3 separate regions of the Homo sapiens genome follow, and regions 2 and 3 are each linked to region 1. Evidence: fine-mapped expression QTL. A gene starts in region 1. Each other region holds a variant in brackets. All regions are shown on one strand. Distances are from middle to middle. Region 1 holds the start of TUBGCP4 (tubulin gamma complex component 4). Region 2 overlaps TP53BP1 (tumor protein p53 binding protein 1). Region 3 overlaps TGM5 (transglutaminase 5).

What was found. PIP is the estimated chance that this variant, and not a neighbour inherited with it, causes the effect. A credible set is the group of variants that fine-mapping cannot tell apart.
Region 2: its variant is the best candidate, but not a certain one, in a credible set for the expression of TUBGCP4 in whole blood (INTERVAL, PIP 0.72).
Region 3: its variant is the best candidate, but not a certain one, in a credible set for the expression of TUBGCP4 in whole blood (TOPMed, PIP 0.57).

What each region holds. Positions count from the first base shown.
Region 1 is chr15:43,368,721-43,374,072 of GRCh38, forward strand. It overlaps TUBGCP4 (tubulin gamma complex component 4), which reads left to right and starts at 2,381. Exons shown (of 18, transcript NM_014444.5): 1 at 2,381-2,712. The coding sequence starts at 2,635. It overlaps ZSCAN29 (zinc finger and SCAN domain containing 29), which reads right to left and starts at 2,323. Exons shown (of 6, transcript NM_001372080.1): 1 at 1,838-2,323; 2 at 876-1,305; 3 at 203-407. The coding sequence starts at 1,193. RefSeq lists a silencer at 2,022-2,291 and an enhancer at 2,392-2,511.
Region 2 is chr15:43,448,776-43,453,775 of GRCh38, forward strand. All of the region lies in intron 12 of TP53BP1 (tumor protein p53 binding protein 1), which reads right to left. Among named protein-coding and RNA genes, the nearest start is that of TP53BP1, 42 kb to the right of the region's middle. The variant T/G (reference allele first, on the strand shown) is at 2,117.
Region 3 is chr15:43,250,308-43,255,307 of GRCh38, forward strand. TGM5 (transglutaminase 5) reads right to left here. Exons shown (of 13, transcript NM_201631.4): 5 at 3,199-3,327; 6 at 2,452-2,629. Among named protein-coding and RNA genes, the nearest start is that of TGM5, 14 kb to the right of the region's middle. The variant C/T (reference allele first, on the strand shown) is at 3,073.

The DNA.
Region 1 (5,352 bases):
AAGTTCCGATAAAAACTAGGGAGCCATTCTCTTGTGGACTTATCAAGAGGTAATATGAATACCAGAGGCTAAACTACATGTCAACAACCACATATTCTGCAATTTCCACTTACTCCTGAAATCCCTTTCCCACTCACTATTCCCAACCCTACTTCCCAACTTGGAATGGCAGTCTATCTTCCCATATGAATCTACTCCTCACCGCTCCTTTGAAAAGGTTTGAGCTTCTCCTTTGGGTTCATCTGCTCCTGTGGTCCCAGGTCTGGGCTTCTTGCCCTCTCTTTCTTGGGTACACCCCTGGGCTGGGGTTCCACTGACTCCTGCCGAACACTTAATAACTCTTGTGATGATTTCGGGGGTGTCATCTTCTCCAAGCGCACTTCCTGCCCCTTCACAGAGACTGTGACCTAGAAACAACCCCCGTTAATTGTCACTGCAAGATCATAATGAGGGGCATTCCCAGAGGAGAGTATTTAATACCCCAAAAGAGATCATCTTTCAGAGCCATGGCCAGGGTTGTAGGGGTGAGGGAGGTTAACGCGAACAAGGGTCTTATTCCATTGCCATTAGCTTAAAGCAGTTGAAACTCCAGAAGGAAACGATCAAAATAGTAAACCCACCTTCAGGCTGAAAAAAAAAAATCCCCTTTCTTCCCTATTAAGAAACTATAGGAAAAACTCATTATGACAGGGTAGGTGAAGGTACACCCAGGAAGCATCTCCAGACAAGCACTATCTGAAAAAGTTACCTATACCAGACCAGAAGTATAAGCCTCACCAAGGGAGACTGTGTCCCTCTTTAAGCCTGTCTATATCTTAATTTAGCCCTCCACCCAGTATCACACTTTTGAATTTGAATTCCCCCTCCCTTCTCACCGAAGATCTAGGTCTTCCAGGCTCTCTTTCTAAATCTTCCACGAGAGTCACTGCCTCCTCTCCATTTTCTGGACATTGTTCCTGTACCCAATTCTGGATCTCCCCAGGTAAGACGGTCAGGAACTGCTCTAGCACCAACAGTTCTACAATCTGCTCCTTGGTGCGCACCTCCGGCCTTAGCCACCGACAGCAAAGTTCCCAGAGTTGGCTGAAAGCCTCCCGCGGCCCAGCCACCTCCTGGTAATGGAATCTCCTGAAACGCTGTCGGAAGGTCTCAGAGTTAGTGCCATTCTCTCTTAGAGCTGATTTGGCCATCATTAATAGCAGAATGCAGCTTCCCTTCGCTTAGGAGTCTGGGTTCCAGGGCTTACATCTATCTTCCCATGTCCTTGGAGAATCCCCTGCAGATGACTGTAAGAGGTGTTTCTTCCTAGGGCAGAGAAAGATGGCACTATCAGAAGGAATACATTCATATGTCTAAAGTCTTGCCAGAGCTGGCCTGCCTTTCCATGTGCTCCGAGTGGCCTTCTAAGGTAGCACAATCTTCAGTAAATAGACTTTGCAAAAACTGCTTTTCTGGTTGACTTCCAGGGCAGCCCCAGGAAGCAGCAGAGAATAAAAGTACTGTCTGCCCCTCTCCCACCTCCTCCAAATCCGATCCCATTTAACTTCCCTGGCCAATGTTGCACAGTGAGTCCGAACCATATAGGAGAGCTGGAGTTCGAGAGGATCTAAAGACAAGTCACCATCCTGCTTGAAGGCAACAAAAAGCCTCTGTCCAGCTGGTCGCAGCTGATCTCCCCCAGTATCTCCGCAGTCCTTCCCGAGGCCTTCTGCGTCCGCCCCGCCCCCTCGGGCTGCACAACTCCCAAAGCCCACCCCAGGCAAAAATCACGTCCAGAATCTCGGGTCTTTGTTTTCCCCGCGTAGTAGTAGCCGCTCAGCAAGGATTAGGGAGCTACCTGTCGGAAAACCTCGCGCAAGGAGAGAAGCTGGTTTTGGCTCCAAAGCGAGGACCATGGGGGCTTGGGGAGAGTCACATTGGGCAGGAGAGACGGAATCCGAGGAGCAGTAGTAACGGGCTTCCTGAGGACGGGCTCGGGTGTCGGCCAGAGGCTCCAGGTGCTGCCGGTTCGCGGACGCAGAGCTCTCAGCCCAAGGAGCAGCGGCTGCGGGATTCTGGCCTCTTTTGTCTCCGCTCCCTCCGGCCGGGTAACCCGGAGCCGTCGTGCGGTCCCTCCAGAGGCCTCTGACCCGGCTAAGGCGCCCTGAGGGCGCCCTCCAGCCCACCCCTGGGAGCGTCTCCCTCTCGAGCTGCCCCTCAACCCCCTCGCATCCTTGCCTCCGGGCCAGCCTCACCCACTCGGGGTCCGACCCTGACCCCGGCCCCGGCCCCGGCCCCGGCCCCGGCTCTCCAGCCTCCCAAGTACAGCTCCCAAACCGGAAGTCCGAGCGGGCGGCTCGGGGCACCGAGGGCGCATGCGCGAGGGCAGCGACCGCGACTCAGTCTCCGCAGAGCCCGGGCGGGAGTAGCTGGTGGACCCCGTTGAGCTGCCGAACTTCCGGGACTCCCCCGCGACCCCTTCCCAGCTTCCCGTCCGCTCCGCCGCAGCGATTGTCTCGGTGGGTTGATTCGGCACAAACCGCCCGACCCAGGGGCCGGTGCGCGTGTGGAAGGGGAAGCACTCCCCTCGTGGTCGCCTGGAGGTGCGCTGGAGGAGGGGGTGACATAACCAGGGACTCGAGGTCCGCCGTGGGAATGATCCACGAACTGCTCTTGGCTCTGAGCGGGTACCCTGGGTCCATTTTCACCTGGAACAAGCGGAGTGGCCTGCAGGTACTGTCCGGCGCAGAGCGCGGGAACCAGGGAGCGCAGGAGGGGGGACCTGAGCCAGCGCCTGGGGGAGTAGGCTGAGGGACCTAGCGAGCGGGGCTTCCAGGGCTGGGGGCGTATCCCTGGACAGGTGACTGGAGGGCAGCCCCTTAGGGTCAAGGCTGATGCGACACCTAGAGAGGCCGGGCCTAGGCTAGAAAACGGAGGGCAGACCTCGAAGAGCCCCACCTGTGGCGGGGCGAGGAAAGGGCCTGAGGTCCAGGTGTCTGACAGTTGCTGGGGAATGATATAGAAGTGTGGGAGGCACTTTCTCCTATTTATTTTCACACGTGCATTGTTTGAGTTTTGAAGTACTGGGCCAAATACACAGCTCCCAAACACATGGTAAGCGCTCAGTAAAGTTTGTTGAAGGAAATAAATGAAATCGAGAGCGTGTGGTGTTTCCCTCATTACTCCTTTACCAGAAAATTTCTGCACTAGGTAAAGCACTTGGTAGGGGGCCTTTGTGTAACCAGGAATGTATGATGTTCCGTATGCATTATCTTATTTAATCCTCACAACCACCTTATCCATTTTACAGATTAAGCTAGGTTTAGAATAGTTAAATAACTATCGGGGTCATAGCTAGTAATTAACAGAGCTTAGTTTTGAAGCCAGGTCTGTCTGGCTTCAGTATTTGAACTACTTTTACCTGCTTCTGCTTCCAGTAATGTTATCTAATGCTCTCAATAATTTAGTCCACTTAGGTATTGTTTCTACCAGTTAACAAATGAGCAAACTGAAGCTCAGAAAACTTTATGCTGGCCAGTCCTAGTAGTGGCAAGACTGAAATCTAGGTCCGTCTGATCACCAAGACATGCCGATTCTTAGGAGACTGTGGAAGAGCAGAAAAAGTACATTCTTAGTCTATAAAACCTATAAATCAAACAGTTTCCTTTCGTTATTATTTATGAACATGTATTTGGAGTTTGGGAGTTTAGGTGAATTTTTGAAAAAAACAGGTGAAGATTTGTGTGGTGGAGTTTGAATTGTTATCTTTCACCTGTAGGTCTTTGAAGACTAATTCGATGTTTCACTTTTCTCCATAGATCTTAGTACAATGCCAGGCATATAGGAGGACAGTATTTAGGAAGTATGTGGGTGCCTGATGGTCCAAAATAAGAAGAGATAACACAGTACAGGAAAGATAGCTAGGGAGGGGGTGGGGGAGACAACCACAAGTAATTCATCTTTTCCCTTCCTTTCTTTCTTATGAAAAATTCTCAATCATGTATTTTCTACCATTTCATCCTCAAGGTCTCAGCTTTAAAGTCACTTTGTCAGAAAAACTTTCTCTGAGCACATCTTTAAGCATCCTCCCCTGATGCCATTATTCTCCATCAACTTGTTTATTTCCCTTGTAGGATTTGTCACAATTCATAATGTATTGTTGTTACCTGTTTTTAGCCTTTCTCCCGCATAGATTGCCCCTGGGAGCGAAGACCAGTGGTCTTCTTCATTCATCTACCCAGAGCACCTAGCACAGTTTCTGCCACATAGCAGGTGTTTAGGTATTGATGGAAGAAAAGAAGACAAAGATGGCAAATATTACATAATTTCTGCAGAGCAGTGTCTTTTACATTTGAGTAAAGGGAAAAGTTGTCATGAGTGCCAAGTGTTAATGAAAATTATTTTATTATATTGAATATGTATATACATAAGCTAGGTATAAACTCAAGCATAATACTCTTAAACAACTATAAAATCAAATATTTTTATAAATTAAAAGTAAACAAAACTACCAAATCAATAAGTTCAAATGACCATTATTCTAATGCAGGATTTCTCAGCCTGTTCCTATAACTGTGTTATATAGAATGGTATCAGTAACTTCGAGTTATTATTTGCTGTTTCAGAATAATTAGATATTGAACTTTTCGAAAACTCTGCCAACAAGAAACGCTCAAATGCCAATTTTAATAGTAGTATCACTTGATAACTGGTAGAGCTGTCTTGTTAATAATATAAAATTGCTTATGTGTATTGAGCACTAGCTATGTGGTTGGGATATGTGCTTTACACATGTATTAACTTATTTAATCCTCACAATTATTTTCTTCAGTTTATAGGTATGAAAACAGGCACAGACAGGTATAGTAACTTGCCTAAGCTTTCAAGCAAGTAAGAGGCAACTCAGGGATTCAAACCCAGGCAGTTGGGCTCCAGAGACCAGGTTCTTTTTTTTTTTTTTTTTTTCCGAGATGGAGTCTCGCTCTGTCGCCCAGGCTGGAGTGCAGTGGTGCAATCTCGGCTCACTGCAAGCTCCACCTCCTGGGTTCACGCCATTCTCCTGCCTCAGCCTCCCGAGCAGCTGGGACTACAGGCGCCTGCCGCCACACCCGGCTAATTTTTTTGTAGTTTTTTTAGTAAAGATGGGGTTTCACCGTGTTAGCCAGGATGGTCTCGATCTCCTGACCTCGTGATCCGCCCACCTCGGCCTCCCAAAGTGCTGGGATTACAGGCGTGAGCCACTGCGCCCGGCAAGAGACCAGGTTCTTAAGCACCGTGTTGTGCAACCTCTTAAGTTACTAACTTGAAGATGTGATTAGCATTGTGTCATTAAAATCTACATTAATTGGATTCCTAATCAATTTTCTATGGACT
Region 2 (5,000 bases), 80 kb after region 1:
GAAAAAGAAATGGTCTTTAGAAATAAAGGATTAAAGTACATATGCTCAGCTAAAGAAACTGTAAAGAGGGGCCAGGTACCATGGCTCATGCCTGTAATCCCAACACTTTGGGAGACGAAGGCGGATGGATCACTTGAGGTCAGAAGTTCGAGACCAGCCTGGCCAAAATAATGAAACCCTGTCTCCACTAAAAATACAAAAATTAGCTGGGTGTAGTGGCAGGTGCCTGTAATCCCAGCTACTCAGGAGGCTGAGGCAGGAGAACTGCTTGAACCTGGGAGGCAGAGGTTGCAGTAAGCCAAGATGGTGCCACCGCACTACAGCCTGGATGACAGAGCGAGACCGTGCCTCAAAAAAACAAAACAAAACAAAACAAAAACAAACCTGTAAACAGTATGGATGAAGAATCTCAACATTACATCTAACTGACAGACATCCACCATAGTTACAGAAAAGAGAAATGGGTCAGGTAGATAAGCATTCATTCTGTGGTAGCCCCTTATAAAGCAAGTTGTTCTAATAAAGAACTTAGAAGAGATACAGAAACTTAAAAAACACCTTGCAAAGCCTCATATATTCCAGACTTCTGAAAATGTGCATGAAATCTTTAAGCAGACCTTTCTATGTGACATACTATATTACGCAAATGCAATATGCAAGCATTAATCGCTGAAAATATATCCCTGTAACAAGGTTTCCTTTGCACAGTATTACATAAAACTTATGGAAAGTAATTTTAGCACCATTTATCTAACTGCATTACTATAACCTAATGGAAAATTCAGACTTTTACAGGCCCTAGGGACAGCACTGCCACTACTCTCCTCAGGTCTCCAATGCCTCATTCCTGGATTATTACCATAGCCTATCAATCACTTCCTCTGCCTAAAGTCTCCCACTCTCCCTAACCCCCATTCTTTCTGCACACTTTCTGCAGCCTTCCTAGAAAACATGGCTTTGTTAGCTCCTGGTCAAAAAACTTCAAGGTTTTCACTAGAAGACAAATTCCCAACTCTATAGTCAGCATTCAACTAACTAGTAGCAGCCTATATCTCCAGTTTTTCTTTAATTATTCACGTTCATAAAGCTTCTATTCAATGTCCTCCAAAGGTTTCCCATTTCTATGCTTTTGTTCCCTCATCTGGAAAACACCACACATCTACTCAAACTATTGCCAAATCCTTAAAAATACATTTGCTGGTATATTTTATCCTTTTAAACTTACGGAATTTTCCACATATTCCATTATTTCTCTAACATTTAGCAATCCTACATTCTTTAAATTATCAAATCCCTTCTTGTTTTTCCAGATAATCATGGGCTATCATGTTGTAGGTCAGCATACCAAACAATAATGAAGGATATGAATGAGGAAACAAAAGGAAACTCAATACTAATTTTGAAACCACCTGAGTGGGAGTATGTGTCCTTTAAGGACTTTAGAGAATAACTCCAAAGCAATATTTAAAACTCTAAATGTTAAGAAGGTCTCTCCTAACTTTCTGTTATAGTTTTAAACCCATTTTTCTTCTTTGTTCTTAAAAGAACTGGTTACCCCTAAGAATTTATTAAAAGCCATCTAGTTAAAAATGTAAGAATTTATATATCCGGCGATATCATGCATGAAGTCTACCCCAAAAGTCTGCCTCTGATATTAATAGCCAATTAAGATGGCATTCTATCAAGTAAGCAAATAAAGGTTATAGCTAGAGCCTAAAACACATCTAGATCCCCTGATCATTATTAACTATTACAGACTATTACTTATGGATTTAAAGACTTACTGAACTCCTTACAGTTTTTCACATCATCAACCCACCAAATATTTGTTCTGTGTTGAACAAGATTGGGCTTCCAAGTACCATCTTGCTTTTTTACAGGTTTAACAGGAGCTCTCCATAGACAGATACTTGAAGAGGTCTCCAAACTGTTAACAGTGACAAGTTATCTATAAATGGAGACATTTAAAGTAATTCTCTCTCTCCCTCTCTGTACTCACTCTCTCTTTTCCTTCCAACTCCCTCTCTCCCCACACCCTCCCCACTCAGAATCTCTACTTTGTATTGTTTGAATGTTTTTCAAAATTAAGCATGCATTATTTATTTACTTATTTATT[T/G]GAGACAGGGTCTCGCCCTGTTGCGCAGGCTAAAGTGCAGTGGTGCAATCTCAGCTTACTACAACCTCCGCCTCCCGAGTTCAAGTGATTCTCAAGCCTCAGCCTCCTAAGTAACTGGAATTACGCGTGCACGCCACCATGCCTGGCCAAGCATGTATCTTTTTTTAAAATCAATAAATCTATTAACAACAAAAAAGTGCTCTTCTAATAGTAGATGAACAAATGCAAAACTCACCCAATTCACACCTTTCATTCTGTCTTTTCAGACTGAAGAACCATTACTTTTTTTCTTTTTTTTTTTAATTATTATACTTTAAGTTTTAGGGTACATGTGCACAATGTGCAGGTTAGTCACACACGTATACATGTGCCATGCTGGTGTGCTGCACCCATCAACTCGTCATTTAGCATTAGGTATATCTCTCAATGTTATCCCTCCCCCGTCCCCCCACCCCACAACAGTCCCCAGAGTGTGATGTTCCCCTTCCTGTGTCCATGTGTTCTCATTGTTCTATTCCCATCTATGAGTGAGAACATGCGGTGTTTGGTTTTTTGTCCTTGCGATAGTTTACTGAGAATGATGATTTCCAATTTCATCCATGTCCCTACAAAGGACACGAACTCATCATTTTTTATGGCTGCATAGTATTCCATGGTGTATATGTGCCACATTTTCTTAATCCAGTCTATCATTGTTGGACATTTGGGATGGTTCCAAGTCTTTGCTATTGTGAATAGTGCCGCAATAAACATACGTCTGCATGTGTTTTTATAGCAGCATGATTTATAGTCCTTTGGGTATATACCCAGTAATGGGATGGCTGGGTCAAATGGTATTTCTAGTTCTAGATCCCTGAGGAATCGCCACAGTGACTTCCACAATGGTTGAACTAGTTTACAGTCCCACCAACAGTGTAAAAGTGAAGAACCATTACTTTTTAGATTACTATCATTTAAATTTGGCCAGGCCCAGTGGCTCATACCTGTAATCCCGGCACTTTGAGAGGCCAAGGCAGGTGGATTACTTGAGGCCAGGACTTCGAGACCAGCCTGGCCAACATGGCAAAACCCTGTCTCTACTAAAAATACAAAAATTAGCCAGGCATGGTGACATGTGCCTATAATTCCAGCTACTCAGGAGGCTGAGGCACAAGAATCACTTGAACCTGGGAGGCGGAGGTTGCAGTGAGCCGAGATCATGTCACTGCACTCCAGCCTGGGCGACAGAGCAAGACTCTGTTCCAAAAAAATAAAAATAAAATTAGTCTCTCAACATTTAGCAACTAAACAACTATATTTTTAAGTACAAAATAATATTTTTCTGTTCTTTTTGCAACGCTCTTCTGAATGATTTATTTTATACAATTTTCTAAGTTAAAAACTATTGTTCTCGGCTGAGCACGGTGGCTCATACCTGTAATCCTGGCACTCTGGGAGGCCAAGGTGGGTGGATTGCCTGAATCCAAGAGTTCGAGATCAGCCTGGGCAACATGGCAAAACCCTGTCTCTACAAAAAATCAGCCAAGCATGCTGGTACACGCCTGTAGTCCCGGCTTCTCGGGGCGGGGGGCTGAAGTGGGAGGATCACCTGAGCCCGGGAGGTCAAGGCTGCAGTGAACATTGATGGTGCCACTGCACTCCAGCCTGGGCGACAGAGTGAGACCCTGGCTCAAAAACAAACAAAAAAAAAGACAAAAAGCTATTATTCTCCCTTCATGTTCTAATTTGTAGTTAAAATTATTTTTATTTAACTTCTCCTCATAAATACTATTTTCCAACCACTGTCTTCATTACTTTTTGTTGTTTGCCCAAGAACTAAAATCATGAAATAAACACGAAATCACTAGCATTTTCAATAATCTGGATATTAATGTTAATAAAATAATAAGTTTTACTACGGCAAAAAAAGCTGACTCTGCCAATTAACAATGTAAACAAGAATTCATGAAGAATACTATTAAAATAATAGAATATCTCACTGTTTTAGAAGCTTCTTTTGCATTTAATTTAAAAGTACTCCAGGCCGGGCGCGGTGGCTCACGCCTGTAATCCCAGCACTTTGGGAGGCCGAGGCGGGCGGATCACGAGGTCAGGAGATCGAGACCATCCTGGCTAACACGGTGAAACCCCGTCTCTACTAAAAATACAAAAAATTAGCCGGACGTGGTGGTGGGCGCCTGTAATCCCAGCTACTCGGGAGGCTGACGCAGGAGAATGGCATGAACCCAAGAGGCGGAGCTTGCAGTGAGCCGGGATAGCGCCACTGCAGTCCAGCTTGGGCGAAAAAGTGAGACTCCGTCTCAAAAAAAAAAAAAAAAAAAAAAAAAGTACTCCAAAATAACTATATTAAAACAATCAAAGAGACCTGATATTTTGTTGGCACAGGTCATTAGCAGTATTTAAACATAATACAATTAGAAAAATACTCTACTACAGAATTTTAGGTTATTCACATTGTTCTTCACTACAGCTCTTCAGAATCAAATAATCTGTATTAAGCAGTTTTACAGGAAGAAAAAGCACAGCTGGGATCAGGAGACCTAGGTTCTAGTCTCACCTCTATCATTAACTAGCCAAAAGACGTTAAGAAGAGACTAAATCCAATAACCCCTCACTTCCTTTTTAGCTCTAACATTTCTTATTCTTAAGATAAAAAAAAAGTGCTAAATATAAAAGCTAATAAATAGGGACTTTTTTTTTTTTTGAGGCGGAGTCTCATTCTGTCACCTAAGCTGGAGTGCAGTGATACAATCTCGGCTTCTCGTGCCTCAGCCTCCAGAGTAGCTGGGACTACAGGCACCCGTCATCATTCCAGGCTAATTTTTGTATTTTTAGTAGAGATGAGGTTTCATCATGTTGGCAAGGCTGGTCTCGAACTCCTGAT
Region 3 (5,000 bases), 120 kb before region 1:
AAGTCACTCAATCCCTTCAATAATCCTATGAGGTAGGTACCACTACTTTCCCCATTGTACATCTGAGGAAACTGAGGCACAAGTTAAATGACTTGCCCAAGGTTACTCAGCCAATTAATGGTAGTGCTGGTATGCAACCTCACGCATCTTGCCTCCAGAGTCCACAAGCTTCTCCACTACTCTAGGCTGTCAGGGTTTTAGCACAGTGCCTGGCACAAAGGAAGTCCCCAATAAACATTAGTTACTATGGCTATGAAATAATAACATATATATTTTCAAAAAACATGCTTTGGGAACTGTTTGAGGTTAAGGAGTTTGACTAAATCTTTAATTTTAACTTTGGTTGAAGACAGAAGCTGGGTCTTACCCATCTTGTATCCAAGAGCTCTTGGAACACAGTGAGTGCCTGGTGTAGAATAAGGACTCAGTAAGTATTGCTGTGAAGGGATGAGTTTTTCAAACTGCTGTATTTCTTAATTTATAACATGGTAGCTCTTTGGGGGAAGGTTAGTGCTGATTGAGCTACAGGGGACTGGGCCACGTTTGACCTACTTTGACCAACCCTTTGTTTTCCAGGCCACTAAAGGGCCATGATTCTCACAAACATGTTAATTGGTCTACTGTCATTGCATAATCTCCATTCACTGGCTCCACTTCTCTCATCACGCAGTTCCAGACAACCACACCCAAACCTGGCTCACTCCTTCTACACACACATACCTGGCCCATTAGATGCTAGGCTTTTCCACACACTGGAAGGTTCTCTCTCTATCTTATACAAGATCTAGTCTCTACCTGTCAGTCTTGTGCTTGCTTCCTGAAGGACTCAGTCCTCTCACTTCACCCAAATATTCATGACATGGAGTCTCAAAGCTGTGGAATTCCTTGTTTCTTATACCTGGGCACTCAACTCATCCAACTCAACTCATCCAACTCAAGAGCTGGCTCTGCAGCTGCAGAGGAGTAATCTTGGGGCTTACTGATCATTCTCATCAACTGTGCAAAGTCACTCTCTCTCGGTGGCAACACCTCCTCGTGCCCTTGGACAGATGCCTGGGGCTCTCTGAGCTTCCTTCAGGGAAGTTGCATTCTTCCAACAGCCCAGAGATGGGCCTGGCACATATATGCACACGAAATGCAACAAACTTTGTCACACACAAAATTCTACCCAGAAGGCCTGAGCCCCCAATAAACACCAAGCTATGGGCAGATCTGGTATTCTTGGATTCCCCTAAAGAATCCTGTGAGCGAAAACCTTGCTTGGCTTCTCTCCCCAGCTTAACACAATAAATAACCTTCTGATCGCCACCCAAATCAGAATGCGCAAGCCAAGAGGCCGAGAGCAGGCCTGGGTGTGGGGCAGGGTGAGGGTGAGGACCCGGAGCAAGTGCTTGGCCCTGGGTGAGGCAGAAGGCCTCCTCCTTTCACCTCCATGTGTGACTCATTTCCAAGTATCACTCCCCTCATGATTTCCTCCTCATCTCCTCCTCTTGTCACCCACAAACCAACTTCCATTTGCCATCTTTTCCACATATGTATTTTTTAGTTTTTCCTCTACTAATGTAGTATCCATTCCTTATCTGAAAAGCTGACCTCACATTTTCTTCCTTCCCCTAACCCTCTGGCCAGAGTCAGGCTATCAGGCCCTCAACAACTCCAAATTCAAGGTCATTTCCCTTGGGTTGCCATCTTGCTCTGGCCCCATGGCCCACACCACAGCCCTGACTCACGTTTCCCTTCCATGTACACATCTTCATTGAGCCCATTCTCTGTGCTCAGAAAGGACACTAATCAGTTTGTAGTTTCCTAATTACTCAGCCTCTCATCTCATTTCTGTCTTGAACCTAGACAGTTCCCAGCCAAGCTCTTAGGAATATGCTGGTAAGTTGCCTAAGCTTAGACGAAGCAAGGGTGTCAGGCGTCCTGGGACGTGTGACTGTCACTTCGGAACCATGGTCTGACATAAGCCCAGACATGTGCAGTCTGAGGTCCGTGATGAGACACTTTATTTTTTTATTTATTTTTTGAGATGGAGTCTCACTCTTGTCACCCAGACTGGAGTGCAGTGGCGTGATCTTGGCTCATTGCAACCTCTGCCCCCCCGGGTTCAAGCAATTCTCCTGCCTCAGCCTCCCGAGTAGCTGGGATTACAGGTGCCTGCCACCGTGCCCTGCTAATTTTTGTATTTTTAGTAGAGACGGGGTTTCACCATCTTGGCCAGGCTGGTCTTGAACTCCTGACCTTGGGATCCACCCACCTCGGGCTCCCAAAGTGCTGGGATTACAGGTGTGAGCCACCGTGCCCGGCCGAGACATTTCAGAGAGGAAAAGGGCTTCCTTCCAAATGTCCCTTGGTGGGAACTGTGTGGGACTGGGATGGGAATGGTTCAGAAGGCTCATACATGAGCGGCTATACTTCTGACCTTTTTGTGGGGTCCTTTCTACCTCCTACCTGTGCACATGACGGCAGCAAAGACCCAGCATTGCCCGTAGCGCACGGGCTGGCAGCCTGTGGCGTTCCACTGCTTCAGGATGGCCACGCTGCCCGTCCACTCCGCAGGGTTGGCGCCGTCTGTGTAATTCTCACTCCAGTTTCCATTGAGCACCCCATTATCATCATTGCTGTTGATCTGAAGAGAAGCCATATAGAGAAGTGTTAGAAACATCCATTTCCTCAACATGCCATGTGTGGGCTGCCTTGGAAGACCCATGGGCCTGAGAAACAGAGGAGAGACTTTTGACAGCATTTTACTGTGGACTTCCAGACCTGCTGGGGAGGGCTAAGGATGGGGGTTGACTCTTCTGACTTCTGCTCCACTGTGAATTAGTTTATTATTATGTTCCTATCTACCCCTTACCCATGTCCTCCCATCCCCTGCAAAGCTGGAGCTTACCTCTGAGAGCTTTAAAAAACACTTCAGAAAAGAGGAAATTTAGAAACAACAAGACCATTTCCCAAACTGGAGCTACACTCACCCTTTCTCAAAACATGCAATTTGGAATTAATAGAGGTGATGACCCACACCCAGCTATTTCAGAGCTCGGCTGAGAAAACTTGTCACCCACATTCTGG[C/T]GTCAGTCTCATCCAAGATGGCTTTGCCAGAGGGTCCCTCTTTCACCCACTGCAGGGGGCAACTGTGAGTGGGCAGGGCTCCCGCTGCACAGCTTCCTCCCTCCCCGGGCACGCCAGGGACCTCACCATGGCACACACCACTCTGCTGACGTAGACGGGGCTTCCCCGCAGAGCACAGTCTGTGGCTGGGTCAGTCTGGAAGTGCAGGCTCTTGTCTAGCAGCTTCAGGCAGATGTCTATGATTTTGTCTTCAAACTTCGGGGGGAGAGGCAGAGAGGGAAGGCACCCATGCTTGTCACGTGGGAGTATGTAAAAAGTAATGACTTCCCCCCAACCCTAGTGGAATATAAACTCACTTGGAAGGTAACTGTGTCAAACAGAACAGCCATGAATTCCCTCCCATTCAGGTGTGGGGTTTCAAAACTCTAGGGTCACAATTCACCTGGTGCATATGCCCTGCACACCAAATCCCTCCCCTTCACTCCGAGATGACTATTGCTACTCCTGGGTTGTTTGGGTTTTTTCCCCAGTGAGTCTGACTGATTGAAAAGGCTCCTCCTCTCCTCTCAGTTCCCACACTCCTAGAGCACCAGGGGGTGTTCCTGCCAAAACCACATTGCCCCTGCTTCCACACTCACCTGCTGACCCAGCTTAGCATTGGCAGCTACTGCTGAAGTGAGGGTGCCAACCTGCCATGGCACCTGTGATTCACTGGGGCTCTAGGCTGACTAATTGCATGTGAATTATGAAAATTTCCCACCCAAGGCAGGCTGGCTCCTCCTGGTCCTTCAGACTTGGTGTGAATGCCACTCCCTCTGAGGCCTTCCCCGAGCCTGAGCCTGCTTTAGCGCCACAGCCCTGGGTATGTGCCCTCTCCGCGTGAGACTCAGTTACGTGATGTAGTCAAGTCTGTCTTTTCCTGCCTGAGTCTCGGGGCTGTTTCAGTCCAGCTCTCTTCACAACTCTGGACCTTAGGCCTGGCATGGTGCCCAGCACATTGCAGGAACTCTGTACCTCTTTGTAGAATGAGTGTAAATGAATACATTTATTCCTGTGTAACACTGGGCAACATGCAGAATTAGGAGGCTTCTCTGATCAATCTTCCCCAGAGGACAGTCTGATCAGCTCACTTTTCTGTTTTCAAATTTTCAAAGGCCTCCTACAGCCTAGAGAATCAAAGCTCTGACCTCCTTCAGAAGGCACATAAGTTCCTCCCAGATCTGGCCCCAACCTACCTCTCCAGCCTCAAGTATCAATAATTGCCCTCCGCCCCCATCCCTACCATTTTTTCTCCAGCAACACCAAATGTCTGCAGCGGGCCAAACCGTTTCCCACCCTCGTGTCTTTGCTCACACCTTCCCTCTGTCTGGGATGTTTTTCCCACTATCCTTCACTTGGCTAACTCAATTCAAACATCTCCTCTCCCAGGAAGCTTCTATGATACTCCCATGCCCAACCAAGAGCTCTTCCCCTTGGCTCTCAGAACACTCTGCCCCTGTCTCTCAATCTTTACATATTCATGATAAGTGACCTGTTTATGTGTCTGAGTCCGCATTACACTGTAAGATCAGGGACAATGTTGTATTCATTTTCATATCTCTAGCACTTAGCACCCTGCCTGGCACTGAGCAGGCGATCAATATATATTTAATGAAGAAGAAAGACAGAAATGGGCCAGGCGCGATGGCACACACCTGTAATCCCAACACTTTGGGAGGCCGAGACGGGAGGATCATTTGAGCCCAGGAGTTTGAGACCAGCCTGGGCAATATAGTGAGACCTCGTCTCTGCAAAAAATAAAAAAATTAGCCAGGTGTGGTGGGGCATGCCTGTAGTCCCAGCTACTCAGGAGGCTGAGGTGGGAGGATCACTTGAGTCCAGGAGGTCAAGGCTGCAATGAGCCATGATCTCACCACTGCCTTCCAGCC